Regions from separate parts of the Homo sapiens genome. Here region 1 is linked to region 2. Evidence: fine-mapped expression QTL. Tissue or cell type: whole blood. Region 2 holds a variant in brackets; the other region holds the start of a gene. All regions are shown on one strand. Distances are from middle to middle. Region 1 holds the start of LIX1-AS1 (LIX1 and RIOK2 antisense RNA 1). Region 2 has its middle 10 kb from the start of LIX1.

Evidence for each region. PIP is the estimated chance that this variant, and not a neighbour inherited with it, causes the effect. A credible set is the group of variants that fine-mapping cannot tell apart.
Region 1: it holds the start of LIX1-AS1, and the variant in region 2 is the best candidate, but not a certain one, in a credible set for the expression of LIX1-AS1 in whole blood (INTERVAL, PIP 0.67).

Annotation. Positions count from the first base shown.
Region 1 is chr5:97,072,200-97,075,117 of GRCh38, forward strand. LIX1-AS1 (LIX1 and RIOK2 antisense RNA 1) reads left to right here and starts at 1,526. Exons shown (of 8, transcript NR_187470.1): 1 at 1,526-1,639.
Region 2 is chr5:97,151,175-97,154,092 of GRCh38, forward strand. No RefSeq gene overlaps it. Among named protein-coding and RNA genes, the nearest start is that of LIX1, 10 kb to the left of the region's middle. The variant C/T (reference allele first, on the strand shown) is at 1,329.

The sequences.
Region 1 (2,918 bases), 79 kb before region 2:
ATGTATTTATAGAGGACTGACCACGTCCAGGCACGATTTGCTGAGCTAGGTTTACAGAACCAGGCTGCTTGTATTAGAATTGAAATGCTTAGCATTTTCAGGAGTCACTTTTTTCCCCCTGTAGTGCATAAATACGGTATATCTTTATACTACCAGTTTCCCATTTAAAAAGTATTATTATTGTTATTAAGTATTAACCATTTGTCTAGTATCATGGAGTAGAAAAGAGGCACAAAAGAAGTTTGTATTGTGCCTGTGGGAGTTTCACCTCAAAGCGGGAATCCCAACTTGAGCCAAAGTTAAGTTTGCACCGACATTCAGTCACCATCTGGGGGATTTGGGAGGGAAAACGAGTGTCTTCTGTAGTGGAAAAGGCATGTTAGTATGGAGCTTTGGTCCAAAGTCAACAGATCAGTGTTAAAGAGGGAGAAGTTTAATACTCAGCCCTTGTGGACTCATGTCCTTGGGAGAAAGACTTCAAAAAACATTCCGTAAAAACCAGAGAAGCTGTTTCCTGGATATCTGCTAAGGCAGCTAGAGCTTAGGTCAGCACAGCTTTGCAGCCTGAGTGTCAGACAGCAGCTCTGGGGCTACTGCCTGAACAGGAAAGTGGGCAAACCTCATCCTGAATTGAGAAGATGTGGGAGTAGACCTCATCCCTTGATGGTCTTAGTTTCCTGGCAATGGCAGGAGCAGCTGCGATTTTGGCAGGCTTGGCCACCAGTGGTGGCATTTATACAGACAGGAGGCAGGGAAATACCGGGTAGAAGAGGGAGGTTCCCTCCCAAAGGCCCCACCCTCAAGCCTGGAAACCCATGACTTTAAATGGGAATAGGCATTCTTGTTTTTGCACCCAAATGTTGCCTTTTGGCCCACCATGTCCACCCCCCATCTTGTACCAATATAAACCCCAAATTGCAGGCTCCATGAGCAGAAAAGCAGACGAATAGAAGAGCAGAGGAACAGAAGAATAGCAGTGTGGCCGAGCAGCGTGGTAGAGAAAGAGGGAAGAGAAGCAGCATCTGAATGTTGAGAGGAGTTTGGCTGGGGACAGTCGGAGAGGAGATTGGCCGCAGGACGACCCAACTCCAGGGGAGGAACATCTTCCTACTCCATTCGCTTCCCCACTCCCCAGCCATTCCACTGAGAGCCACCTCCATCTGGCAATAAAATCTCTTGCATTCACTATCCTTCAATTTGCCTGTGTGACCTGATTCTTCCTGGATGCTGGACAAGAACCCAGCATCCAGGTACCAAGAGGGCACTGGGCTGGATAACACTTGAGCTGTCTGTGGACGGCAGAGCTAAAAGAGCACTGTAACATGCCCACTGGGGCTTTGGGAGTTGCAGGCACCCACCCTGGATGCTACTACCATGGGGCTGGAGCCCAAAAGTGTTTGCCCCGCCTCCTGCACCTGCCCGTCTGCATGCTCCCCCTCCAGTAAGGGGTTTGAGTGCACAGAGGCTGAACAGATGAGCCACACCCCTGTCACACATCCTGTGAAGGGGGTTAGGAAACTCTCCCATTTCATCTTGACCATCTTTGAGGGACTATTGATGCTTTTGGTATCAGCAGCCACAGAATTCATCAGACACAGCACAAAAGAGCAGGAGAAGAGATAATGGCAGATGCCAGAAGGTAAGAAGGAATTCGCCTGTGAGCAAGTGTGAGCTGTGCCCTGGGGGTATCTTAAGTGCGGGAGAAATTCGAGAGAGTTGGAACTTCTAGAAGTGGGAAGTGAAGGACAGAGCCAGAGAATGATACTGTTGTGGTCATTGTGATATTATTTTTATCCCCAAGATGTGGTATCTGGAGTGAGGTACAGAATATAAAGCCTAACCCTAGGCGGGCGCGCGTGGCTCACGCCTGTAATCCCAGCACTTTGGGAGGCTGAGGTGGGCGGATCACGAGGTCAGGAGATGGAGACCATCCTGGCTAACACGGTGAAACCCCGTCTCTACTGAAAATACAAAAAATGCCCCGGGCGTGGTGGCGGGCGCCTGTAGTCCCAGCTACTCCGGAGGCTGAGGCAGGAGAATGGCGTGAACCCCGGAGGCGGAGCTTGCAGTGAGCCGAGACCGAGCCACTGCACTCCAGCCTGGGTGACAGAGCAAGACTCTGTCTCAAAAAAAAAAAAAGAAAAAAGCCTAATCCTACATATACGACTAAGGAGATAGAGTATCTTGAATTTAGACAAGGCGATTAAGTCTCTATCATGGACTGAATGTTTGTGTCCCCTCAAAATCCATATGTTGAAGCCCTACACTCAATGTTATGCTATGAGGAGGTAGGCCTTTTGAGGGGTAAATTAGATTGAGCTGAGGGCATGAGCATGGAGCTTCCATGGTGGGATTACTTGCCCTTATAAGAAGAGCAAGAGACGCCGGAGCTTCCTCTCTCCACCTAGAAGGTGACCATTTGCAAGCCAGGAAGAGAGCCCTCACTAAAACCCAAATCTACTGGCACCTTCATCTTAGACTTCCCCACCTCCAGAACTTTGAGAAAATAAATTTCTGTTGTTTAAGCCACTCAGCCTAACCAGTACATGACCAATGATCTTCCTCTAGTTTAGCAGCAAATATTAAATATTTTCATTCACCTATTCATTTATTTCATTCAACCAGTATTTCTGAAACACCTATCCTGTGCTGTGAAGTACTGATAATGGATTAGGTACTGAGCTAGGAGATGGAGATTTTTGTTTTCATGGGCTCCCATTTTGTAGAGCAGAGATGCATGAGCCAGCACCCCTGAAATATTTGTTATTTCCTGAAGCTCCATGCTGTCTTCCAACTCCATGTCTTTGCACAGTTGTTCCCATTGGTACACTTTTCTTAACCTGCCCCACCCAACAGTCTATCTTGAAAGTTCCTGTTTATCTTTCAAGACTCGGCTCAGGTATTACTTCCTTCCCTAA
Region 2 (2,918 bases):
TCATTCTTTTTTTTATGGCTGAATAGCACTGCATTGTGTATATGTACCACATATACCAGCCTGTGTGACAGGGCAAGACGTGTTTCTAAAAAAAAAAATTTTTTTTAAATACTCTGCAGTATTTTTTCAAAATCTACAGTCACTTTTTCCTAATAATCAACTTTAAAAAATATTTCAAAATAAGCTTGAATTTGGCCCTTTGCTCTCACAACACCAAAACACCATTTTCCCAATTACAGCACAGCAAACACACGACATTCATTTCTGTCTTCTGAATTTTCTGCATGATTTCCTCTTTGAAAGTTTTCTTTTTTAGTTCACCTATTCACCCAAACCTTCATTCCCCAAAACAATTCACCAAATTATGCTGCCCTTTCATTCAGACTGTGCTTGGAATTTCCCCAGCAATTATCAGTGATACCAGGCTCTTGGGTACAGCCTTCTCTATATTGTCATGTAGTTGTTCCATGTGTTTATTCTTGTCTCTCAAAAAAAACAGGGGCGGCCTCCAAGCCAGCAAAAGTTTATCGTAAAAAAAAGAAAATCTGTGTACTCTCCTCCCCAATATCACTTTATATACCCCACACACTTGAATTACTGATGTGTGAACATGTACATTTTCTTCCTAATCTAGGCCAAACCTCTTCAGCCAACAGTAGCATTATAGTAAGAGGGTTTTTTAATTCTTTTTTTTAAAGTTTTTTTTTTTTTAATTTAAAAAAATGATTTGGGGGTCTCACTATGTTGTCCAGGCTGGTCTCAAATTCCTGGGTTCAAGCCATCCTCCTACCGCAGCCTCCCAAGTAGCTGGAATTGCAGGCACATGCCATGCCTGGTGATTCATTTATTTCAAATAGTTATCTTTTCTTTTTTAAAATCTAGAAGGACATAGTCTTGTAATAAATGTCCCAAGTAATATTTTAAATATGAGGCATACTTCTACTTATGCAATTAAGTGTAAATGTTATATAAAATGTTAGTTTAAGAAATTTCTTATTTTTAATTTTTGTGAGTACATAGTAGGTGTATATATTTATGGGATACATGAGATATTTTGCTACAGGCATATGATGCATAAGAATCACATCAGGGTAAATGAGGAATTCATCAGCTCAAGCATTTACCCTTTCTTTGTGCTACAAATGATCCAATTATAGTTGTTTAGTTATTTTTAAATGTATAATAAATTATTATTGACTGTCGTCAACCTGTTGTGCTATCAAACACTAGGTCTAAATCATTCTAAGTATTCTTTGGTACCCATTAACCATCCCCATTTTTCTCCCAACCCTACCTCTCAGCCTCTAGTAACCATTGTTCTTCTCTTA[C/T]CTCCTTGAGTTCAATTGTTTTAATTTTTAGCTCCTACAAATGGGTGAGAACATGTGAAGTTTGTCTTTCTGTACCTGGCTTATTTCACTCAACATAATGACCCCCACTTCCATCCATGTTTTTGCAAATGACAGGATCTCATTCTTTTTTATGGCTGAATAGCACTCCATTGTGTATATGTACCACATTTTCTTTATCCCTTCATCTGTTGATGGACACTTAGGTTGCTTCAAAATCTTAGCTATTATGAACAGTGCTGCAACAAACATGGGAGTGCGAATATCTTTTCAATATACGAATTTATTTCTTTTGGGTATATCCTTAGCAGTGGGATTGCTGGATAATATGGTAACTCTATTTTTAGATTTTGAGGAACCTCCAAACTGTTCTCCAATAGTGGTTGTATTAGTTTACATTCCCACCAACATTGTATGAGGGTTCCATTTTCTCCATATCCTTGCCAGCATTTTTTTTTTTTTAATTTGAGACAGGGTCTCACTCTATCACTCTATCACCCAGGTTGGAGAGGCTGGAGTGCAGTGACATGATCACAGCTCACTGCAGCCTGGAACTCCCAGGTTCAGGTGACCCTCCCACCTCAGTCTCCCCAGTAGCTAGGACCACAGGCATGCACCACCATGCCTGGCTAATTTTTTTTTTTTTTTTTTGTAGACAAGGTTTTGCCATGTTGCCTAGGCTGGTCTTGAATGCCTGGGCTTGAGAAATCTTTCTGCCTCGGCTTCTCAAAGTGCTGGGATTATAGGCATGAGCCACTGTGCCCAGCCCAGTGTTTGTTCTTGCCTGTCTTTTGGATAAAGGCCATTTTAACTGGAGTGAGAAGATATCTCATTGTAGTTTTGATTTACATTTCTCTGATAATCCATGATGTTGAGCACCTTTTCATACAACTGTTTGTCATTTGTATGTCTTCTTTTGAGTAATGTCTATTCAGATCTTTTGCCCATTTTTAAATCAGATTACTAAATTTTTTTTCCTATTGAGTTATTGGAGCACCTTATTTATTCTGGTTATTAATCCCTTGTCAGTTGGATAGTTTTCAAATATTTTCTACAATTCTGTGGGTTGTCTCTTCGTTTTGTTGATCGTTTCCTTTGCTGTGCAGAGGCTTTTAAATTTGATGTGATCTCATCTGTCTATTTTTACTTTGGTTGCCTGTGCTTCTGGGGTATTACTCAAGAAATCTTTGCCTATTTCAATGACCTAAAGAGTTTTCCCAATGTTTTCTTGTAGTAATTTCATAGTTTGAGGTCCTCGACTTAAGTCTTTAATTCATTTTGATTTGATTTTTGTACATGGTAAGAGGCAGGGGTCTAGTTTTTTTCTTCTGCATATGGAGATCCAGTTTTCCCAGCGTTATTGAAGACACTGTTCTTTCCCCAATGTATACTCTTTGCACCTTTGTTGAAAATGAGTTCACTATAGATGTACAGATTTGTTTCTGGGTTCTCTAGTCTGTTCCATTGGTGTATATGTCTGTTTTTATGCCAGTACCATGCTGTTTTGGTTACTGTAGCTCTACTAGTTGGTGGGTCTGTCATATATGGTTTTTATTATGTTGAGGTATGTTC